Linked DNA regions of Homo sapiens: all the other regions are linked to region 3. Evidence: fine-mapped expression QTL. A gene starts in region 3. Each other region holds a variant in brackets. All regions are shown on one strand. Distances are from middle to middle.

Region 1 (8,186 bases), 44 kb after region 3:
GATTGAAAATACTCTGTATCAACAAGAATGAAAAGAACTGAACATTTTCTTACCTTCACTGTAGTGGAAGGACAGATTGGTAAATTTTTTCTGGAGACAATTTTATAATATGTATCAAATATTAAAATACTATGCCCTTGGACCTAGCAGTTCCCCCTCTAAGTATATTTACTAAGGAAATAGTAGACAGGTAGGGAAAGGTATTTGTACAAATTTTAGCATTATTTACAATAGCAAAAGGAAACATATTTTTAAATAGAAGATTAGTTGAATTACAGCATTTCATACAAGGGAATATTATGGTATTGTTAAAAGGACATTTCATATTCTATTTTTACTGGCATCAAAAAATATTCACTGTATACTACTACATGAGAAAAGATTATGAAACAACATAGTGTGTATAAAATGATTTTATTTTTGTTCTTAAAATATATATGGATATATTTTTATGTCTGGTTATACACTATATTGCTTTTTACAGTGGTTATTTTCAAGGGGAAAGAGAGACTAACGGGCCTCTCATAGTCTTAATTTTTACACTTCTATATGGTTTAAAATTTTATATTTACTTTTTTGCTTCATAGTCAAAGAGAATAGTAAAGATATTTACATTCTGAAAAATGAAAGAATATACAGGTTTGGAGTAGGCAGTATGACATTGACCTTTGCGTTGTACTCCTCTGTGGAGTGTCCTTATAGTATTTGCTGAAGCGTATCATGCACAATCTCCAGTCCATTTCATGCAGTTTGGCACATTTTCCCTGTGCAGTGAGAAGATTGCTCACGTCTGGCATCGTGATTCAGGTGTTTCCACTGCATGACAGTGAAGCCCTGAAGAAGCTTGAGGACACCTGGTACACTCGGTTTGCTTTGAAGTATCAGCCCATAGGTATGTGTCAGTACTTGTTCTCTTAAAGAAGAGGAAGGCCTCTGATGAAAAGTTACGATCTAGCAGTGGAGTCAGCTCCCTTGGGCAGATATTTAGTGCTCTACTGGGCAGGGATCACCAGCTACATGTGGGAAAACATTTTGATGGAGGGAATAAGATAGGTTAGATGACCCCTTTTTTCTTTTTTTAAACTTTTTTTTTTTTTTTTTTGAGATAGGGTCTCACTATGTCACAGGCTGGAGTGCAGTGGGATGATCACAGCTTACTGCAGCCTTGACCTTCCAGACTTAATCAATCCTCCCATCTCAGCCTTCTGAGTAGCTGAGATCACAGGCGTGCACCACCATCCCCAGCTAATTTTTTGTAAAGACGGGGTTTTGCCGTGTTGCTCAGGCTGATCTTGAACTCATGCTCAAGCGATCCTTGTGCCTTGGGCTCCCAAAGTGTTGGGATTATGGGTCTGAGCTATTGTGCCTTGCATTTTTTGATGTTCTAATACTACCATAGATCAGTGGAATCACAGGCTTTTACTACCCTTCACCAACAACACAGACAGTTCAGAGTGGCCTTCCTGAATGTGTGTCAGAGTTGGAACCAAACAAGTTTTTTTGTTTTTGTTTTAGTTTTTGTTTTGAGATGGAGTTTCACTCTTGTTGCCCAGGCTAGAGTGCAATGGTACAATCTCACCTCACTGCAACCTCCACCTCCCAGGTTGAAGCAATTCTCCTGCCTCAGCCTCCCATGTAGCTGGGATTACAGGCATGTGCCACCATGCCTGGCTAATTTTTTGTATTTTTGGTAGAGATGGGGTTTCACCATGTTGGCCAGGCTAGTTTCGAACTCCTGACCTTAGGTGATCCACCCACCTTGGCCTCCCAAAGTGCTGGAATTACAGGTGTGAGCCACCGTGCCCAGCCTCAGACAAGTTTTAATAAGAATTTAGTTTGACTATAAATGACTATTTTGTATTTGAAAATTTCTATTTTTGAGGAGCCAGTTATTTAGAATGAAACAAGCTATGCCACACTTAGGGCAACTAGCAGGCCAAACATCTTTTGAGGTGATTTGTAATTACCTTGGCATGCATTACTGGATCTGTCAATTTTCTTTGAATATAATTATAAGAATAATTATTAATTTATTTGGTATGTGCTGGACATTATTTAAAATTTTGTCAATATGGATGTTCAAATATTTTAGTCTGGTTATGTTTTTTAAGCTGGTAGATTTCACCTTTGCATTACTATCATTTTTTTTTCTTTAAAGGACATTTTCCTTTTGGTTTTGTTTAATGGTATCCTAAAATAATTTTCTTTCTGTTTTCTATTTCTGAAAACAACTATTATATAATGTTTTACCAAACAAAAATTGTTGTAAGATCAAACCCTAAATTACATTTTGAATTTTGTTTATATTCTCTGAAAGGAAAAGTTTTGTTATTGTTAATTCCAGGTCATACAATAGTCATTTTATATTACACTTAACAACTGTTTAACTTTGTTTTGGCATTTAAGTGGCAGGAAATTTGAATATTGCCTCTAGGACTTGTAAAGTGACTATCTGTTAGCTACTCCTTTTTTTTTTTTTTTTTTTTTTTTTTTTTGAGATGGAGTCTTGCTCTGTGGCCCATGCCGGAGTGCAATGGTGTGATCTCAGTTCACTGCAATCTCCACTTCCCAGGTTCAAGTGATTTTCCTGCCTCAGCCTCCTGAGTAGCTGGGACTACAGGTACACACCACCATGCCCGGCTAATTTTTGTATTTTTGGTAGAGACGGGGTTTCCCCATGTTGGCCAGGCTGGTCTTGAACTCCTGACCTCAGGTGATTCGCCCGCCTTGGCCTCCCAAAGTGCTGGGATTATAGGTGTGAGCCACTGCTCCCGGCCTCTGTTAGCTACTTCTTAGAAAGTAAGGGGAGAAAGTGAGTCGATGGTGAAGGCTAGGCATGGGGTGGTAGTGGATTTGGGGTCGCTGGGGACTGAGACTGGTGATAGCATCTGGGACATAGGTGGATCTTGAGGCTCCTTGAGATTGAAAGGGGAAGGTCATCTGCTGTGGAGCCAAGTGTCATGAGCATCTTTTAAAAAGAAATGATCGGATGTTCTTTAACCTGATTTAAATTTGAGGTGAAATCATACCTACTGTTTTCATTTGCTCTTGGGTTAGGGGGAAGAATTAAGGATAGGAGAAAATAGCCTATCTCAGTTCATTCTAACTCATTTTTGTAGACTGCTCAAATTATCTTAAGAAAAATATGTTAACTGTGTATTATTAACTAAGAAATAATAACACCAACTGTCACACTTCCTCTCACCCCCTGCTTCCCACCCTGGTCCTGGTACAAGATGCTCTTATGATCCAAGCACTCCCCATGTGGATGAGGCTGGCAAAGGATGCAGTGTTGGTGACCCCTCTAGAGTCATTTAGCTTGTGTTGAGTTCACAGAACATTAGCAGTCATGTTGCTTGGACCTTCTTCTGCCCAGTGCATATATGAAAGTGTTGATAAATGTGTTCCATGGCTGTTCTGGAAGTTTATGTGTAGAATCCTGTTTTGTGCTTTTGAATAATTTTTCTTTAGTGTATTGAAAAATCTTCCATAACACATTGATGAAAGTTTATGTCTCTGGGTAGGGAAGAGCAGAATTTTGTGGATGGGGAGTCTTCGTCAAAAAGAACATTTATAACACTAAGTGGGAGAAAAGTGGGGAGCATAAATTAAACCCCCAAATTAATGTTCAGTGGACATGGCTGAACTTAAATTAGGACCTTGGAGATTTTGGGTAAGCTACAAGATGAGTTTTCCTTTGGGAAGAAGGTATCCATCAGGTGAGGGGAAACAGAGTCCAGGCACCTGGCGGAGCACACCCCCCAGCTAAGGCCTGGCCCCTAACCTGGGGGAAATGTTGGACCTGCCATGCAGACAAGCAGGGTCTTTATACTGCATGGAGGGTAGATTTACCACCACACGCTGTTTGGGAAGTGAGGGTTGAATGATCCCCACTTAACTAAAAAATGAATAAGCGTACTTGAAATGATTTTTTAAAGTGTTTGGTAGTCTATACTTATGTTCTTTCTTTGTTTCCACTATAGACAGTATTCGTGGCTACTTTGGGGAAACAATTGCTCTGTACTTTGGATTTTTGGAGTATTTCACTTTTGCATTAATCCCCATGGCTGTCATTGGGTTACCTTACTACTTGTTTGTGTGGGAAGACTATGACAAGTACGTGATCTTTGCCTCGTTCAACCTCATCTGGTCCACGGTGATTCTGGAACTGTGGAAGCGTGGCTGTGCCAACATGACCTACAGGTGGGGGACACTGCTCATGAAGAGAAAGTTTGAGGAGCCCCGGCCAGGATTTCATGGTGTCTTGGGTATCAATTCCATCACTGGGAAGGAGGAGCCTCTGTACCCCAGCTACAAGAGACAGTTGCGCATTTACCTGGTCTCCCTGCCATTCGTGTGCCTCTGCCTCTATTTCTCACTGTATGTCATGATGATTTACTTCGACATGGAGGTTTGGGCCTTGGGTCTACATGAGAACAGCGGGTCTGAGTGGACCAGTGTCCTGTTGTATGTGCCCAGCATCATCTATGCCATTGTGATTGAGATCATGAATCGTCTCTATCGATATGCTGCCGAGTTTTTAACTTCATGGGGTAAGACTTGAGGCTTTATATTCACGTCTTACTTGCCTGTAAGAAATGTTGCCTAGATCATGGGATTCACATAGCTGCTACCTTGCAGAGAAAATAGATGTTGCTCTTGGCTCATTATAGAGACATAAGGAAAAATTTATCAGCTTTGTGAACACTGATGATCTCCATGCCATGGTTATCGTAACTCTCATTTATTATGTGTTAATTACTATGTTCTAGGTGCCCTGCTAAGCACTTTATTCACAGTATCTCACCATCACCTTCTCAAGGGTACCGTGAAGTAGAAGTTATTTCACCCTTTTATGGATAAAGATAACTGATGCTTAATGAGGTTCAGACAGCAAATAGTGGAGCTAGACTAATTCAGACCTATCTTTCCAAAGCTTGTGCTCCTAATACATAACATTGTGTTTCATGCC[G/A]AGGGTAAAATAGATTGAAATTGTTTCACTGGCTAGAGCCACAGAAGAAAGAAAAAAAAAATGTCTTCATGATACTCAGCTGAATCAACTATGACCAGTTTCCTAAAATGGAGTGTCTAGTTGGTGTGAGGCACTGAGGACTGCTGTTGAGTTCATTGAAGGCAGGTGTTTATGGATGTATCTGTGGTAAAAAAGGAACTTGGTTATAAGTTGAAAATGGTCTTGATAGGCCATTGACTCTTTATTTATTCATTCAAACCAATGAACAAATTCGCTATATTATTCCCTAGGAAGAAGTCAAAGCCTTAACTTTATGGGACATAAATATGTTTTAGGGGCCAGACGCAGTGGCTCACGCCTGGAATCCCAGCACTTTGGGAGGCTGAGGTGGGCAGATCACAAGTTCAGGAGTTCGAGACCAGCCTGGCCAATATGGTGAAACCCCGTCTCTACTAAAAATAAAAAAATTTAGCTGGGCGTGGTGGCACACGCCTGTAGTCCCAACTACTCAGGAGGCTGAGGCAGGAGAATCACTTGAATCCAGGAGGCAGAGGTTGCAGTGAGCCGAGATCGTGCCACTGCAGTCTAGTCTGGGCGACAGAGCAAGACTCCGTCTCACAAAAAAAAAAAGATGATTTAAATTATTTTTATTAGTTGTATGACAATATCAGCTGTCATTTATCAAGTACTTTCCTTGTGCTAATACTAGGCTAAAGTTTTATATTATTTCTGATCCTGAGAGTGACCCTGGGAGGAAGATGGTCAGCCTTGTTTTGAGGGAATAAGGCTGAGTATCAGGAGGTTAAGTAACTTACCCAAGGTTAGGCAGTGGCTGAGTAGCTGAGTTGGTGTTCAAATATAGGTCAGTCCAACACTCTATGTGTAAGATGACACTTCTCTTCAGAATCTTCCTTTTTGTCATTTTATCTTGCTGTTTTGGGATCTATGCAGTATTACCTTTTCTAGGTGAAGATAGAAATTTGAGTTTCCTTTCAAGTTAACCCTTGTAAGCCACATGAAACTTTACTTACAGAACTTTATTTACAGAAAACTTTATTTATTGCCCTCTTCTCTAGAGGTTACTATTATTAGTTTTCACTATTACTTCTTATACAGGGTCTTTGGGTGGCTGTCTGTAGGATTGTTTGCCAGCACTTCCCAAATTTCTTTGTAGCAGTAATTTAAAAAATAATTTCAGACTACAGTGCTATTGCAGTACCCTGAAAAATGTGTCCCTGTTTGATGCTCTTGGTGGTAAGGCATAGCTGTGATTGACAGCCTAGTACATTTACTGACTGAGGCTCTGATGTTGGACATCTCCGCCCTCAATGCAACTCACTTTACCTCATAACAGTGCTTTCGTATTGTTTTCTTACTGAGAAGTTACCTGTGTGTTTTAATGTTTTAGAGAATCACAGATTGGAATCTGCCTATCAGAACCATCTAATTCTGAAAGTTTTAGTGGTAAGTACAGCGTTTATGTACAAATCCATTTTATGAAACTGGTATATACTACATAATATATAGGAATACAAATATGAAGAGTTGCTTCTAATCTAAGATATCAATATATTTTGTGCAAATAGGCAAGGATTGATTAATAAATATGTGTACCTCTGTGTTCAGTAGCCTTATTACAAATGTGCATGTGATGTAAGACTTCAAAATATAGGAGTTAGTATTATAGCCAATTTCCAGTTATTTAAAAACTAGGCCAGGTGTGGTGGTTCATACCTGTAATCTCAGCACTTTGGAAGGCCTATGCTGGTGGATCAAGAGTTCGAGACCAGCCTGGCCAACATGGTGAAACCCTGTCTCTACTAAAAATAGAAAAATTAGCTGGCTATGATGACGCAGGCCTGTAATCCCAGCTACTTGGGAAGCTGAGGCAGGAGAATCGCTTGAACTCAGGAGGTGGAGGTTGCAGTGAGCCAAGATGGTACCATTGCACTCCAGCTTGGGTGACAGAGCGAGACTCTGTCTCAAAAAAAAAAAAAAGAAAGAAAGGAAACTAACGGGCCAGACACGGTAGCACATGCCTGTAATCCCAGCACTTTGGGAAGCTTGAGGCAGGTGGATCACTTGAGGCCGGGAGTTTGAGACCAGCCTGGCTAGCACAGTGAAAACCTGTCTCTACCATAAAATACAAAAAAAATTCACCGGGTATGGTGGCACCTGTAATCCCAGCTACTGGGGTGACTGAGGCAGGAGAATCGCTTGAACCCAGGAGGCGGGGGTTGCAGTGAGCCGAGATTGCACCACTGCACTCCAGCCTGGGTGACAGAGCGAGACCCTGTCTCAAAAAACAAAAACAACAACAATAACAACAAAACTAACCCACTTTTTAGATATGTTTCTATTCTTTTCCTTTTGGTGATTTCTTTGAATGTTTTGCTATTTAGCAATCCTTCCTGTCACCACAACCTGTTTAGTGATGGAATATTACATTAAAAAAAATTTTTTTTGTTAGATTTCCAAAGTTCAAAAGGTTCCCAGCATGTTTTGACAGGTGGGAGGAAAGAGACAGAGAGAAAGCAGTATGTAACCTGCTTGCTGTTTGTTAAAAGCTGACATGTCGTGCCTCTTTCTACCATTATTATAAATAATAAAGAAGTACCAGCTTGAAAACACCTCATTTATCGGGGGTTTACCTCAGTCATCTGTAACATAAGTGAGAATCAAGAAAGTTACCTGAAGAATCATCTGAACTTTCAACTGGAATTGATTTAACACAGTCCGTGTACTTTACTCCCAAGAGAAGGATGCAGGCCCTCTTTTAGAATCTCTGTTCTAGCTGTAGAAATCATTCTAAGAAGTTTATCTATCTGGTTTTTCGGTCCTTAAAAAATCAGAAATCACCATCATGAGGGTGTTTAGATTTCTGGAAGTAGGCAAACCTACAGAGAAAGAACAGGTAAGGAAATGAAAAGCTGTCATAAGAGATAAGAATTCAACAATTGGGCAATAGGAAAGGGAAAAGTAGCCCTACATATCCAAAAGGCTTCGAAGGCCTCCTTCACACCGTGAAATGGCTGATACTTAAAATGTTGGTGCTAAATCAGCTAGGAAGTTCTGTTCTGTGCCCTCTGTGTAAGAAAGTAAAGGAATATGGGATACATTAAAAAGTTCATTCGAAAAGGTTATATAACAGGAGGAGCTTTTTCCCTCAGAGGTAAAAACATTGTTTGTCTTAAAGAATTCAGTTATTTATGAG
Region 2 (8,186 bases), 280 kb before region 3:
ATTTACTAGCTGTGGCCTTGGGCAGTGTTTTAATCTCTCTGTGCCTCAGTTTCTCTTATTTTCAAAATAATGATAATATCACCCACATCACTGGTGCCTGTGCAGATTAAATGAGTTAGTCTATTAATGGATTAACCCTACCTGTAACTCAGCCACAGTTAGTTGTTACAACCGTTGGTATTGTCCATCTCTAAAATGATTGTATAATTTCTGAGGCTTATAGGGGTTGGGTGATTCATGCATCATTCTGCTGATAATTAGGGGCAGAGAATCTAGGCTCCCTGTCTAAAACTGCTTCCATTGAGGAAAGATACAGTTATCTGGAAAATCCTATGAGATTTCATGGGAAACATCAAGGGCAATACCTCCCTATTGTAGTATGATTACAAAATTGCTCAGGTTGCAAGTCCTCCAAAAAGGGGAGCTTCCTTGATCTCTGCAGTCAAATTTACTTCTAATTACATGAATTCAGAGCACCATTACTAAGCACGTCTAGCAGACATGAAAGATTAACAGTGTATTATTGGTTAGTGTAGGCTCACTGCTGTAACAAACAAGCCCCAGCATTTTTGTGGCTCAATACAATTGAAGGTCATTTCTCTGCCAAGTAAAGTCCAGACTAGGTATTCCTACTGGGTGGGCAGCTTCCCTCCACATGGTGACTGGGGATCCATGCTCCTGCTCCTTCCATCTTGAACTCTGAAAGTGGCACAAACACTTCCACTCATATTCTGTTGGCTGTAGTTGTCACATGGACATGGTGAACTGCAAGGGAACCTGGGGGAATGTGGTCCTGTGGTATTCCCAGGGAAAAGAGGATAGTTTTGATGACCAGCTAGTTAGTTTCTGCTACAGAAAGTGACATAATTAGAAGAATGTAAACTCAGACCAGATTTCATTTGCCAGCATACCCTTAGGAGAGACCCTTCCATCATCACCCCTTAGATTCAATGAACTGCTCAGCCAGGAAAAAACAAGGTTTGCCATCTGCCCCAAGATCACAAGTGAACTCTGTTGCCCAGGCTGGAGTGCAGTGGCACAATCTTGGCTCGCTGCAAGCTCTGCCTCCCAGGTTCATGCCATTCTCCTGCGTCAGCCTCCTGAGTAGCTGGGATTACAGGCACCCACCATGACGCTTGGCTAATTTTTTGTGTTTTTAGTAGAGACAGGGTTTCACTATATAGCCAGGATGGTCTCAATCTCCTGACCTGGTGATCCACCCGCCTTGGCCTCCCAAAGTGCTGGGATTACAGGCGTGAGCCACTGCGCCCAGCCCAGAAATGTATTTCTCACAGCTCTGGAAGCTGGGAAGTCCAAGATCAAGGTGCCAGCAGACTTGGTGTCCGGTGAGGGCCTGCTTCCTGGTCCCCAGGTGGCCATCTTCTAGCTGTAGCCTCATATGGCAACAGGGGTGAGGGAGTTCTCTGAAGTTTCTTTTATAAGGGCACTAATCTCATTTATGAAGGCCTCATCCTCAAGACCTAATCACATAACAAAGGCCCTACCTCCTAATACCATCATGTTGGGTGTTAGGATTTCAACACATGAATTTAAGGAAGGCACAAACATTCAGTCTATAACACCTTCCCACCTTTGCTACCTTAATATCCTCTGCTCTCTGGCCTTCCCTTCACCCCCTCATTCTTCCTGATGCCAGAACACAAACATATCATCTTCTCTAAATCCTTGGTGATTGTTAGTTCACTTGTGATCTTGGGGCAGATGGCAAACCTTGTTTTTCCCTGGCTGAGCAGTTCATTGAATCTAAGGGGTGATGATGGAAGGGTCTCTCCTAAGGGTATGCTGGCAAATGAAATCTGGTCTGAGTTTACATTCTTCTAATTATGTCACTTTCTGTAGCAGAAACTAACTAGCTGGTCATCAAAACTATCCTCTTTTCCCTGGGAATACCACAGGACCACATTCCCCCAGGTTCCCTTGCAGTTCTCCATGTCCATGTGACAACTACAGCCAACAGAATATGAGTGGAAGTGTTTGTGCCACTTTCAGAGTTCAAGATGGAAGGAGCAGGAGCATGGATCCCCAGTCACCATGTGGAGGGAAGCTGCCCACCCAGTAGGAATACCTAGTCTGGACTTTACTTGGCAGAGAAATGACCTCAAAAAAAAAAAAAAAAAAAAAAGAAAGGAATTTCTGTGGTTTAAAAGCTGTCTGATCTACGGCACTTCGTTAAAGCAGTCTGAGCTGAAATAATACAGAAGGATAAGAGGTAAAATTGCTCTGAAATTTTAAAACATAATTTTTATTATGAAAAATTTTAAGCATAAAGTAGAAAAAAATAGTTTAATGTAAACATTTAATTTTAAAAGGTAAAAATCACATTTCATTATGGAAAATCATTAAAAGAAATAAAAGGAAAATATTTGTAATTCAACCACCTTATTAAAGCCAGGTATTGCTTTGGTGTATTTCCATCTAGTCCTTTTTTTTTTTTTTTTGAGGGGAGGGGCATAAGTTTTTATATAGAGTTGTAAAGAAGAGAAATGGTTATAATCAGAGACTTGGTGGTATGTCCTTATGGGAAGGGGGAGAGGAGAGGGGATGGATTCTTCTGCATGGTTTTACACAGAATCCCTTGCTCTGTGTTCCTCACTTTGGGGGCTAACACACATTTCTGATTCTGTAGCAGGTAGGGAAGCAGGAGGTGGGAGAGGAGTGTGGAGAAACATAATTTAGATCAGTTATACATTCAGTTTGTTAGCAGCTTTGGCAAAAAGGTTCCTGGGAAGAGCAAGTGGAAATGCCTTACCAAAATGAAGTTTAAAAGGTATCTCTAGGCCGGGCATGGTGGCTCAACCCTGTAATCCCAGCACTTTGGGAGGCCGAGGCAGGTGGATCACCTGAGGTCAGGAGTTCAAGACCAGCCTGGCCAACATGGTGAAACCCCGTTTCTACTAAAAACACAAAAATTAGCAGGGCGTGGTGGCGCTCGCCTGCAATCCCAGCTACTCAGGAGGCTGAGGCAGGAGAATCATTTGAACCCGGGAGACAGAGGTTGCAGTAAGCCAAGATTGTGCCACTGCACTCTAGCCTGGGCAACAAGGAGCGAAACTCTGTCTTAAATAAATAAATAAATAAATAAATAAAGGTATCTCTAACACATTCACGCTTGGTATTGAACCCCTGTGCTAATTAAGACTGTAGCGGCAATAGGGAAGGCCAACAAATCAGTGGTTTCCAGAGATTGGGAGTTTATTTCTCACCTTCTGTGCCCTTCAAGTGGGGAAGATGCTAGTCTCCTAGAGGTAACCAGGACTGCACCTCGGCTGCCCGCAGTGGTCACCTGCTCACCAGTGCACTCTGATGCCTGCTTCCCTCTCCTACCTCATTTCCTATAGTGCCCATGAGAATGTGCCTAGCAGTCCTGCCTCCAATTAGAGGGAGTATTGGTAACCAAGGGCCTGGCAATTGCTGCACTAGGAAGCCGAAGGACATGCTTCCCAAGGGCTGCTCCCTGTCAGTGACTGAGCACAGCAGGGACACTCGAATGCAGGTTGTTCTAGGAGATGTGGGGCTCCTCTAACACTGGCTTTGGCTCCAGGGTTCCATGATGGCTTCGCTGACCCTTCCATAGACAGCCTGGCAGTCTAAGACATTCTTTCCCCACCTCTTTCACTCAGGGTCAGACTTGGCTGGAGGTATGAGAGATCTCTGAGCCTCATGTGGCTCCCTCCCCATTCTCCCTCACGTTGATAGTTACCCTAATAAAATCCTTTCATGTGTAATCCCACCTTGGCAACTACTTCTCAGAAGACTCACACTAACACATTTCCCCCACTCTCCTACTAATACTTCCTGGAATCACCTCCCAGACAAACAACTTGTACTCAAGTTTTTGTGTTAGTATCTCTTTCTGGGGAAGCCAGCCTAAAATAAAGGACACTCCAGGGACACTGCACACACCCCTTGCACGAATTACCTTGCAGCAGAATAGGGTTAGGTGGCCACACTGAACAAGGGAGGCTGGGGCATGTAGTCTCCTTCTATGATGGACCATGCACGGCAGAATGGCTATCAGGAAGCCTGGTGGCAGCTGTGGCTATTCCTCCTCCCTCTAGCCTTCAAGGTCAACTTTCTGGAGCAGAATGTGTGGAGTCCTTTGTTAAATCTGTGCTGATGTAAACTGATGGAAACTAACCCAAATCTAACTTCATATTATACTGATGTGCTCCAAGGAAAAGTGAAAAGTGAGTGAAGTTATGGTCTAAACCTAGCCCATCTCTTGAGCCATGTTCCCATTTTTTCCTTTTTAGACCCTCTCCAGAACGTCAGCTGCCCAGAGCCCCAGCTTCCCAAAGCCCCTATTCCAGTGCCTCACCCAAGATATTGATTCATCAGCCTGACTTTCTTCCTCTTGCCTTAAATTGTACCTGTTCCATTACCCAAGATTCTGTACATCACTAATGTGATGAGTTAATTTAACATAAAGACAATAACGTTGGCTAAGGCTTGACTGTGGCAGCAGCCAGATGAGCACATTTGGCCTCTAACCAGAACCTGGAATGCCTTACCCAGAGGATGGAATGGTAGTTTGCCTGTTGACTGTCATTGAGTCCTGGATAATCACATGCAAATGTTATCCATCTTAGGCTTTTTTTTTTTTTTTTTTTTTTTTTTTTTTACGATGCAGATAACAGAAGTCAAGGATCAGGCATGAATAAGCTACCCCACTAGTAAGGATCTTGAAACCCAGTAGCTGAGACTCCATAAGTTCTGTGAACTCAGTTTTCCTCTGGGTCATGTTCCTTAGGATATTTTTTTTCTGTCGTATTCAGGAAAGAAGCCTAGACTCCTTTGATTCAACACTAAACTGTTCACAGTAGTTATCCCTAGAATGAAATTGTAGCCGGGGAGACTGTGAAAGGGCTATTGCTTTTAATACTGTAAAAGGGCTACTACCTTTTAATGTTTCTATAGGGCTTGAATTTTTCATATCAAGCATGTACT[C/G]TTTTGGTAACTTTTGAAAATAATGTAATTTAGCTGCTATGATAAACCATTTGCCTTGCCCTGTGGCATGGACAAGAAACCTGTCCTATGCATTCCTGAGAAGATCTCTTCATTTTTGGTAAACAATGAAAAAATCCGGTCCTTAATGTCTCTTCTTTTTTCAGAATGCATTTGGATCCTTTCTGCTATTAGCTTTCTTAAACGTGATATGAATTGTCCTGCATCCCTGGTTTCTCTCTGTCCCATGAGTCAGCTGTTCAAATGTATTTTAAAACATTAATTTTTAAGTGAAATTAGAATACAGACCACACTTATTTATCCACAGTGCCTGGGTCTAGTGCCTGGTATAAAATCAACACTTTAAAATGTTTTGAAAAATGGCTGAGAACTCATATTAGTCAAGGGACTCCTAATGACCACGGAGTTGTTTCCATATGGCAGCCACTGCAGGTCTTCGGGGGTGGGAGGTGAGCCTTGAGTTCTTTAAAAGTCTTTCCCTGGGATGTCGACCCAGATACCAAATGCAGTTGGGAAGGGAAAGTGGTAGTCTGGCCAATGGTGTAAAATTAGGTGTAATATATGAGAATACAACTGCTTGTGTCCTACTTACCTAGTCATTGGGCAAGGCAGGTTAGGTCTGAAGGGGAAATTACTGGCCAGAATCTCAGCATTTTACTGCAAGCTTGAGAAACTGAAAACAAAGCAAAACAAAACATAATCAGTTTTTCCTTGTTGTGCTTGTTTTGACAATAATTTGTTTTGACAAACTGACACTCTTAAAGATGGCTTTTCTGATATTTTGTAAGGCCACTGCACTATCTGCCATTTAACATTTTAGAGTAACTTCCAAGTTTCACACCTCTTGAGCGCCTAGCCACTTTTTGCTAGCATTGCTTCATGTTGTGAGAGAAGAGACCACCTAATGTCCTGACGTGCAGTGGTGACAGTAGACACATTTAAGTCCAACCTTAGCCCTTCCAGTTCTGGTCCTGTGACCTTAAGTCTCTGAGCCTCAGTTTTCTAATCTGTCAAATGGTATTAATGATGCTAGCTGTCTCTAGAGCTGTTTTAGGGATTACAGGAGGTAATCTTTTTTTTTAAGCACAGGGGCTGGTGCATAGTAAAGACTCAATAAATGATAACCATTGTTATCATCATCAACATTAAAAGCTTATCAAAGAGGGCCAGAAGGACTTGGGATATGGATCCAGGAAATCTACCACTTTCAGGCCAAGTAATAATCATATTAATAAAACCAGTAGAGTTCTGCTGGGTCATTCTTCTGGGACCTCATGTTCTGTTCTTTGCAGTATTGGGAAGTGGGCAAGGAAGAGGGGCGTGGAGAATGGAGGTGAGGAAGGGGGCTGGGAAGGCAGAGGGAAAATGAGGGCTGCTGATGGTTGGTGGTTCAGAGGCAGCAAAGCCAGCAGTGAGGAAATGGGAATTACCAGGCACTGAGGAGCCCTAGTGCCAGCTCTTTGCTGACATAATTAATGAGGCTGTTGTGCCAAAAACGAGGCATGTTGTTAATATACAGACCTGTTGGGAGCACAAGGGAAATGCAAATAAAAATTTTGCCAAAAGAGGAGTGGGGTCAAATCAGCTCCAGAGGGCGACCACGTTGTCTATAAAACTCTAGTATATGGGAGGCCAGGAGACAGTATGAAGAAAAAGAGAGGAATTGATTTCAAACAGGATCAGTAGCTACTAAATAGTAGACTTTTAATATTCGTGTTTGCTGATTTTTCCTTTTGTGTCTATTTCTTTCAAAGTCTGTTCAGTTGGTGAAATTCACTTGATAATGAAGACTACTTAGGTTGGTGCAGAAGTAATTTAATTTTTTAAAAAAAGGCAAAAACTGCAATTACTTTTGCACCAACCAAATAAAATTTCAATGGAGTTTTAGCATTCAGGACTTTAATATACATTCCATAAGATACACAAGAAAAAAACCTGAAAGATTATTTTTATTTTTACTTTAAAGAGCTCTGGGCTGCTGAGAGGAAGCAGTCTTGAACCTATATAAAATTGTGATTTTTGTGCCTGTTTCCATCATAAAAACCAAAAATGATTATTGGTTTCTTATGTGTGTTCTCAATGGCGAATTCAATTTTTTTTCCCAAAGAGCCTTGTTGAATCATCCGAGTGAGACGTGGACCAAGGTGAAGGCGCCTGCGGGTGGCTTTCCTGTCCAGGGGTAGGCAGGAAATAGAGTCCCGGGCTGCCACTGCTGTCCCCTATGGGTGTGGCTGGGGACTGGCTGGGAAGAAAGCCAGCATCATTTGATGCAGTTGCTCTGGAAGGTCGCTGAGCACGGGCCCTGGCACCCACCTTCCCAAACACAAGCCCGGCCCTCGGCCCAGCGGAGAGTCTCGTACAGGGGACAGGGATGGCGATGCTGGTCCCACGGGAGCCAGGCCGGTGTCCCCAGGGGATGAGGGGTGGGGGGCAATACAAGGAGGTTACTTTGGTCTGTTGCTCCCGCTTTGTTAACCCATCCCTATGTCCTATCCCCTTCTTCCCTGGCTTTGCCCAAGCCGGGTAACGAGAAAGCGCTAGGAACCAAGTGGCTGTTGGACGTGGCCGACTGCGGAAAGGCCTGCTTTATTTCGTCGCAGTTCATTTATTTTCCTTTTCGTTCTGCCGGCTGCCACGTGTTTGGTAAGTTAGAGCACGAAACACTTTAAGATGGGCCTGTGGGGCCGGAGCAGAGCCGCAGAGCTGTGCAGGCGCGCGTGTGCACGTGCGCGCCTGTATGCCGCGTGGGCGTGCGCGCGTGCACGTGGGCCGTGTGCGCGCGCACATTGTTTCTGTCTCCAGCGGTTGGGAGCGCGCTGGCGTTGCCTGTGGGCTTGGGGCCCCTGCGCCGGGGCGGAGCGGGCAGCGAGGCTGGCGGGAGATGCTGGGCTGCTCTGGAGAGCGCGCAACCGGCGTGCTCACCCTGTTAAGGCTCCGCTCTTCGCTGTGCCCAGATCCACACAGGTAGCCTTCAACCGCCGCCCAGGGAAGTCAGTGCTCTTATTAGCTTCAATTTCCGGACGAGGAAGTGAGGCACAGAGAGGTTAAGGAGCCCAGCTATTAGGAGCCTTTGAACTCAGACAGTCTGGCTCCAGAATCTGCATCTTAACTCCATTACGCGTTATTTTTTAAACGCAGGCCCGCCCCCCCCCGCCCCCCTGGACTCCGGTTTGAAACGCATTGAATAATGAATCCTTTTC
Region 3 (8,186 bases):
CAGGACCAGGAAAAAAGTCTGCTGCAAGCTAGAGAAAGTGGTGGAAACTGCTGATTCCTTTTTTTCTCTCCCTCCGTTTCCCTGAAGCCATTCCCTGTCTGGGAGCTGCCCTGCAGTGGTATGGTGACACAGTCACCTGAGAGAAAACCTGTCCTTCTGGACAGAGGAGTTGGGAAAAGGGACTCTTGGAAGCCAGAGAGAACATGGAGGAAATACCCAAAGAGAGACAAGTGGAGAAAGGAATCCCTAATTCTGTGTAATTGTTTGACATGCAGTCATAGGTAATTGATACAGTAGTTCTCCTTAGCCACAGTTTCTCTTTCCATGGTTTCAATTACCTTCAGTCAACTGAGGTCAGAAAACATTGCATGGAAAATTCCAGAAATAAACATTGCATAAGTTTTAAATTGTGTGCCATTCTGAGTATCGTGATGAAATCTCCGCCTGTCCTACTCCATCCCTCCTGCGATGTGAATCATCTCTTTGTCTGGTGTGTCCATACTGTAGGTCCTTGTATTAGTCCATTCTCATATTGCTATAAAGAAATAACTGAGACTGGGTAATTTATAAAGCAAAGAGGTTTAATTGGCTCTGGTTTTTCAGGCTGTACAGGAAGCATGATGCTGGCATCTGCTTGGCTTCTGGGAAGGCCTCAGGAAACTTAAAATCATGGCAGACAGCAAAGGGGGAGCAGGCATATCACATGGCGAGAGCAGGAGCAACAGAGAGAGAGCAAGATGCCACACACTTTTAAACAGCCAGATCTTGTGAAAAGTCTCTCACTATTTCGAGGACAGCACCAAGGGGATGGTGCTAAACCATTCATGAGAAATCTACCCCCATGATCCAATCACCTTGCACCAGGCCCCACCCCCAATACTGGAGATTACAATTCAGCATGAGATTTAAGTGAGGACACAGATCCAAACTATATCAATGCTACATACCTTTTGGTCACTTAGCAGCCATCTAGGCTATCAGGTCGAAAAAACATAATATATACAGGGTTCAGTACTATCTGTGGTTTCAGGCATCCAGTGGGGGTATTGAAATGTGGCTAAGGGGGACTACTATATAGGGATCTATGTCATTAACTCAGGTTTGCCATTTATGCTGTCCAACAATTTGCTATACTTAACAGAAAGTTTTAATTTGTTAATTGTGGAGATGAAATAAGATTATACAAGAGAAAATGACTTTTATATTTCCATTCATTTTTCTTCCTAATTCCTCCAGCCACATAAATATAAGAAAATGAAATTATATGGAGGATGGCCGTGCGTTCTAGGATGAGAAGATAAGAAGAGTACAATTTAAAAACAAAAGTCTAAGGAGTAATTCATGTCTAAACTTATTGAAGTTCATAAATAATTTGTCCTGATTTTCAGAAGAAAGAGAGAACTTCTGAACATAACCACACAGGACCTACAAAAAGATAGCTGCACAAAAACTGGTTAATAATGTTGTGAGCTGCCATGATAGCATCGGAGGACTAGAAAGAATGACAAACTGCTCCTACCAAGTAACGAGTCTTCTGCTCCTTTCTTTTAGTTTCCCTGCCTCCTGCCTGGAACCTGGAAGACCCAGAGAAGGGTGGGGAGTAAAGAACAGACCAGCCTTCTCCGCACTGCAGTTTGTTGAGGCATTGATCTGGCCAAAGCTGGATGTATGGAGGCAGAAAGTGTTCATTCATTTTTTAAATTTTTCATTTCAGAATTATTGCTTGTCTGCTATGGACCTAACACTGTTCTAAACATTGGGGCTGGTAATCCTCCATTATCTGTGGGAGATACATTCCAAGATCCACAGTGGATGCTTGAAACTGAGGATAGTATAAAACTCTATGTATACTATGTTTTTTCCTACACATACATACATACTATGATAAAGTTTCATTTATAAATTAGGTACAGTAAGGGATTAACAACAATGAATAATAATAAAATAGAACAATTATAAAAATAGACTGTAATAAAAGGTGAATATGGTCTCTCTCTCTCTCTCCAAATATCTTATTGTTCTGGCCTCACCTATTTTCAGACTGTGGTAGACCCTGGGTAACTAAAAACACTTAAAGCCGGCAGGGCGCGGTGGCTCACGCCTGTAATCCCAGCACTTTGGGAAACCGAGGCAGGCGGATCACCTGAGGTCAGGAGTTCTAGACCAGCCTGGCCAACATAGTGAAACCCTGTCTCTACAAAAAATACAAAAATTAGCTGGGCATGATGGTGCGCGCCTGTAATCCCAGCTACTCAGGAGGCTGAGGCAGGAGAATCGCTTGAACCCGGGAGGCGGAGGTTGCAGTGAGCCGAGACTGCGCCACTGCACTCCAGCCTGGGTGACATTGCGAGGCTCTATCTCAAAACAACAACAACAAAAAGTCAAAAAGTGTGGTGGACAGAAGAAATAGGAGAGCAGGTAAGGAAATGGTGGGGTGAGGAGCAGATGAGAACAGGTATTAAGTAGGATGGTCAGAAAGGGCCTCAGGGAGAAAGTGAGAGCCCAGCAAACACTGAGGGAGGTGAGGAAGTGAGCCAAGCAGCCAACCGAGGGAAGAGCTTTCTGGGCAGAAGGAATGGCTGGGGCAGACTCTGAGCCTGGAGGTGGAAAGGTGTCTGGCGATTTCTAGGAGGAGCAAGGGTTTTGGGATTTGGCTGTGGTTGGATGTTAGGTTTTAATTATAAAAGGATCTGCGTTTTTCACAACTTGAAAGTGAGCTACAGTTAAAATGAGACTTGTTCTTATACCTGAAAGTGACCAGAAAATTAGGTTCTGGTCTTTAAGAGATGGAAGAGGGAAATGTGAAGGGGCGTATTCCTTTCCCCTGCCCCGACCGCTCGCGGTTGGAGAGCCCAGCCACATGCCGCCCCGGCTCGGAGTGACAGCCCAACCAGGCCTCTGCCTTCTCGGCCGCGCCTCTCCCGCTGCCGTCCGGATTTCGATGGGTGGTACAGTACGTTAGGCACGCCCCTCCCTTTCTCCCGGCCTGGTCTCCTGTTCCAGGCGACAGCCCAATGAGGGCTGCCTTTTTTTCTTCGGACCGGTTCCAGTCTAGGTTCTCGTCCACTACGATCGCCCAGTGAGGCCCCGCCCCTCCCACCGCAGTTCCGCCCCTCCCGGAGCTACCGCCCAGTGAGGCCCCGCCTCTCCCGCCGCGGCCCCGCCCCCCTGCGTGTGACCGCATCTAGGCCCCGCCGCGTCCGCCACGCCCAGCGCTCGGCGGCGCCCGCCCCACTGGCCTGGCCCGCCCCCCGCACCGAGCACTCTTTCGCCCGGCCTCCGGTTCTCGCCGGCTCTCGGACCCGCCTCCGAAGACGTGGAGCGCTGCGGCGGCTGGTGAGTCGGGGAGGGCACCTCGGACCCCCCAGCTGTCCGCAGCAGAGCCCGGCCCCTTGCAGCCACAGAGCCCCGGCCGCTGCAGGCTCCAGGAGCTCCGCCTGGTCGCCGCCCTGCGTTCCCGGGCCGCCTCCCGGTGCCAGCACCCCTGGGGATGGGAAGTGGGACCAGGATGGGCGCGGGGGCTGTGGGGGCAGGGACGAGTGAAGGTGTTGCGGGGAGCGGCGGTCGCAGGGGAGGGGAGAGGTTTGTGGAGGGGATTATGGGTCTGGGGCGAGGGTTTGAGTCCTGAGAGAAAGGCGGTGAGGCGGAAATTTGGGGCTGGTGAAGTCAGGATGGAGGATGTTGGGGGCCTCAGCGCTTTGGGGAAGGAGGCAGTGAGTGGGGTGGTCGGCGGAGCGGAGTGAAGGGTGGTTTTTAGAAGGGTCAGCTCGCGGGTCCCGGGGTTCTTGCTTCCCGGGCAGTCCGGGGATCAGGGCGGACTAGGCTGTCTCCAAGCAGGTTTGGCCGGAGCGGGCTTGCAGGATAATGCTCACATCGAGGTGACTGAGTTTCCAGGCTTTTGACTGGGACATACTGTACAGTTTAAATAATAGATACCTGTCTGGCTAGTGCCTGGGACACCTGAGAAACGTGGATGGAATGGGGTTCTCCCCTATAGGCAGCGTCTGATTTTGTGGGTGCCTTCACAGCACCAGCATTGGTGTGCGCTGCCTTCTGTAAAACCTTATATTCCAGCAGGACGGTGTATGGAGATCCCAGACTTAAAAAGTGCAGCTGAGGTTTATTCAGACTCAAGACACAGTTGTATCATATTGCCTTAAATCCTGCGGAGTTTAAATCTAATCCTGTGGGGTTTAAAGCGGTTAAATCCACTTTGTAGTGTCTACTTTTAATTTAAAGTCATACAAATCTAGAGGACTAGATGTTTTCTAAGGGCCCATTCTGCATGATAAACAGTTTAAAATTCGCTATGGAAAGTAAATCATCTGTTCTGAACAGCTGTTGCTGAAAGAATCGTAGAGTTGCAGATGAATGAAATTTGAAAGATCTAAAATAATGGAAGGGCATAGAAAAGTCTTGATAAATTGAAGTGTGTAAATGCACTTAAACCCACTGAAACTTTTTTCTTTTTGTTTTTTTTGAGACGGAGTCTTGCTCTGTCGCTCAGGCTGGAGTGCAGTGGCACAATGTCTGCTCACTGCAACCTCCGCCTCTCGGGTTCAAGCGATTCTCCCGAGTAGCTGGGATTATAGGCGCCTGCCACCATGCCCGGCTAATTTTTGTGTTTTTAGTAGAGATGGGGTTCCACCATGTTGGCCAGGCTGGTCTTGAACTCCTGACCTCAGGTAATCCTCCCACCTCGGCCTCCCAAAGTGCTGGGATTACAGACGTGAGCCACTGTGCTGGCCAACTTTTTTCATTGTAGACAACTTGGAAGACAGAGAAAATTATAAGGATGAAAATTAAAATCTGTAGTTTTGCCACATGTAATAACATTTTGATGCATTTCTTCCTAATTTTTGTATTTTTGTGTATATGAATGTACACAAAATTAGGGTAGTATTGTTACCTAATTGGGGTAATATTGTTATATTACTTCATACTTTTGCTTTTTCTTTCCACCTTACATTTTCTCACTTAGCATTTTTGTGGATCAAATTCTTCTTAAACATCTTTGAAAATGCTTGTATAATCATTCATCATGTGGATTCATTCTTTTTTTAAATATTAGAGTTTTAGTTATGTGCCTAGTACTGTGCTTGGAGGTGAAAAATCAGTGTTCCTCAAATGGATATATTTGTCATGGCTTGCATGAGAGCTGTACTAAGCCTTTTTCTCATCTGTCAGTTAAATTGTCTCTAGCCTTCTGTTTTTATAAGCAGTAAACCTTTGTTTTAATGGTTAAAAGCTCACAATAAATCTCATGTCATGTGTGAATCCAAAACTGTTATTTTTAATGTGTATGAGTTTTTGTGTGTATGTGTTAGGAAATTACGGAATTTTGGGTGGAAGAGGATTTTTTTTTTTTTTTTTTTTGGACAAGGTCTCACTCTGTTGCCCAAACTGCAGTGCGTGCAGTGGTGCAGTCACAGCTCACTGCAGCCTTGACCTCTGGGGTCAGGTGATCCTCCCATCTCAGCCTCCTGGGTAGCTGGGACTACAGGCGAGAGCTTCACCGTATCCAGCTAATTTTTTTTTTCTTTTTTTTTGTATTTATTGTAGAGACAGGGTTTCGCCATGTTGCCCAGGCTGGTCTTGAACTCCTGAGCTCAATAGATCCACCCCCCATGGACTCCCAAAGTGCTGGGATTACAAGCCTCAGCTACTGTGCCCAGCCCCTGGAAGAGGCTCTTTTTAAAAAGTTTCTTGTTTTGAAATAATTTTAGATTTACAAAAAGTTGCAAAAATAGTACAAATTTCCTTATGCCCTTCACCTAGCTTCCCCAGATGTGAACATCTTAGATGACGATGGTGCAATTGTTGAAACCAGAAAATTGACATTGATACAATTCTATTAGTGTAATCTACAGACCTTATTCAAATTTCACTAATTGTCCCACTAATATTTAGGATCCAGTCTGAGATCCTACACTGTATTTAGTCGTCATATGTCCTTAGCCTCTTTTAACCTGAGCATCCTCCTAAACAGGATGACCTGGTGCAGACCTGTAAAGTGAAGCAGGCCTGCTAGAAAGCACACACCTCCCCTGAATTCATATCCAAAACCTATCCCTTAGAAGGGGATATTTATCTTCCTTTTCTATATGAATAGACTACTGTTTGATTAAGATGTATAACCATAGCTGGGCACGGTGGCTCACGCCTGTAATCCCAGCACTTTGGGAGGCCGAGGCAGGCGGATCACGAGGTCAGGAGATCAAGACCATCTTGGCTAACACGGTGAAACCCCGTCTCCACTAAAAATACAAAAAAAAATTAGCCGAGCATGGTGGCGGATGCCTGTAGTTCCAGCTACTCGGGAGGCTGAGGCAGGAGAATGGCGTGAACCCGGGAGGCGGAGCTTGCAGTGAGCAGAGATTGCTCCACTGCACTCCAGCCTGGGCGACAGAGCGAGACTCTGCCTCAAAGAAAAAAAAAAAGACGTATAACTAATAAGGTGCCTTTTAATTACTTTTATATGCCATTTCTAAATCTTCTGGGAGTTACAGACTAGAAAGCATGATCTGAGTAATCCATGCTTATTATCTCTTTTATTAGTCTATGAATTGGCAGTGGGAATCTTTCAAAAACAGAGTGCCAGATGCTGACTCCAGTCCCTGGGTCTTTTGGAGGAAAGAGTAATGGCCTTTACTCTTTACCAAGTGTGATCAACTTGTCCCAGTTTTAAAGGTCTGTGTCTTGGGAACTTCTTCAGCCCAGGGCCACCTCACAGCCTCTAGAGCATTTCTACTGAGATGCCACAGTATATTTCTGACATTATTCTAGCCAAAACAAGCAAACTCTTGGCAGTATCTGGGGTAATGAGAGTAGATGGAGGCATGAGTGAGAGGAGGAAATATTCTTGTTTTCCTCACTGGTGCTTCCATGGCTAGACTCAGTTGAGTGATTGTGTGCAGAGGTTAGTGCAGCATCTAATCCGGCCTGGGCTGTTGTGGCAGGACTGTCTTCAGTATCCTGTGTCTCACCTCTCCTGTACCTTCCTGTGGAATCTTAAGGGCATGGAGTTCCCTCAGGGAGTGGTCCTCACCAGCTTCCCTAAGTTATCTGTGTTACTGAGAAACTGTTATAGTAAGGATGGGTGTATGCGGGGCTGATTCTCCATTCTCACGTCTGTCTACATCTGTGTAACTCCCCAAGGCAGCTGCCCTAGGTACAAGGAGGGAGGCTCCCACAATTGCTCTCACCATTAACTGCCTGCCTGTAGGTAAGTAGTGTCTCTGCATCTCGGGTCCTCTGGAGTTGGCCTGGCCCTCTTTTAGCCTGGCCATTAAAATTGCAACTTTTGTCCTATGGAGATTCCTCTCATCTTCCAGCTTGAGCAGTGCGGTCCTTCATTTTTCTCTTACTGAAGTGTTTCCTAATCTGCTTCATAACTGAGAATACTTTTCGTTCCTGTTTCTCTTTGAATCTGGAATAAGGTGATTCCTGAAGACAGTGTTATGCATTTCCTTCTTAACCTTTGAGTTTGTGATAATTCCATTGACTTTTTTTTTCTTTACCCAAATTCAGGAAAAGAATAATCCCCAGAATAAAGAATCCATTATTCTTTTCCTGATCCTTGTTAAAATAACTCCCCACTCTCCACACACTCCCCTGACCTCTCCATGGTGAACTCACAGTGTGTTTCTCTACATCTTGACCACAATGGTCAGACTTTACCTCTTGTGGGCCAGTGATCCAGTTGTTAATGTAAAAGCCACATGAATTTAACTTATTTGTAGGTCTCTCTTTGACCCTGTGTGCAATTCGACACATGATAAAGAACACAATTTGGGATCGCTGTCTCATAATCCCACGCCCCAGGGTCTGTGTGGAACCTGGCTGCTCTGTGCCTTATAATCAGCCTGGCTGCTGTCCTGGCTGAGAGTCCCGATCAAAGGAGGATATTGGCTGCAATACAGAAATCATTCTACCCTCTGGTGCCCAGGAAGTCTGTATGGTCAAATCATTGTTTTTAGATTGGCCCCAACTGGAACCATAAGGTTTGTGCTACACCTGCAGGAAGACTTAAAGCCTTCATGTCCCTGTCTGGTATTTTGTTTCCATTTTTTCATCTCGTATGCTTGGTAATGGTAGAGCAAGTTCCCATTAAGACCCTCTGGTAAAAGTAGATTCCAGAACTCAGTTTAGGCCAAGGCTGCCATGAGGCTTCTTGTTTCCACCGC

The links. PIP is the estimated chance that this variant, and not a neighbour inherited with it, causes the effect.
Region 1: its variant is the best candidate, but not a certain one, in a credible set for the expression of ANO10 in whole blood (TOPMed, PIP 0.70).
Region 2: its variant is the best candidate, but not a certain one, in a credible set for the expression of ANO10 in whole blood (TOPMed, PIP 0.88).

Annotation. Positions count from the first base shown.
Region 1 is chr3:43,573,059-43,581,244 of GRCh38, reverse strand. It overlaps ANO10 (anoctamin 10), which reads left to right. Exons shown (of 13, transcript NM_018075.5): 5 at 773-892; 6 at 3,984-4,553; 7 at 6,381-6,436. Among named protein-coding and RNA genes, the nearest start is that of ANO10, 45 kb to the left of the region's middle. The variant G/A (reference allele first, on the strand shown) is at 4,973.
Region 2 is chr3:43,893,998-43,902,183 of GRCh38, reverse strand. The region is part of intron 1 of LOC107986081 (a long non-coding RNA gene); the gene reads left to right. Among named protein-coding and RNA genes, the nearest start is that of ABHD5, 210 kb to the right of the region's middle. The variant C/G (reference allele first, on the strand shown) is at 4,969.
Region 3 is chr3:43,617,059-43,625,244 of GRCh38, reverse strand. ANO10 (anoctamin 10) reads left to right here and starts at 3,234. Exons shown (of 13, transcript NM_018075.5): 1 at 3,234-3,336. RefSeq lists enhancers at 1,660-2,312, 2,313-2,965 and a silencer at 3,021-3,520.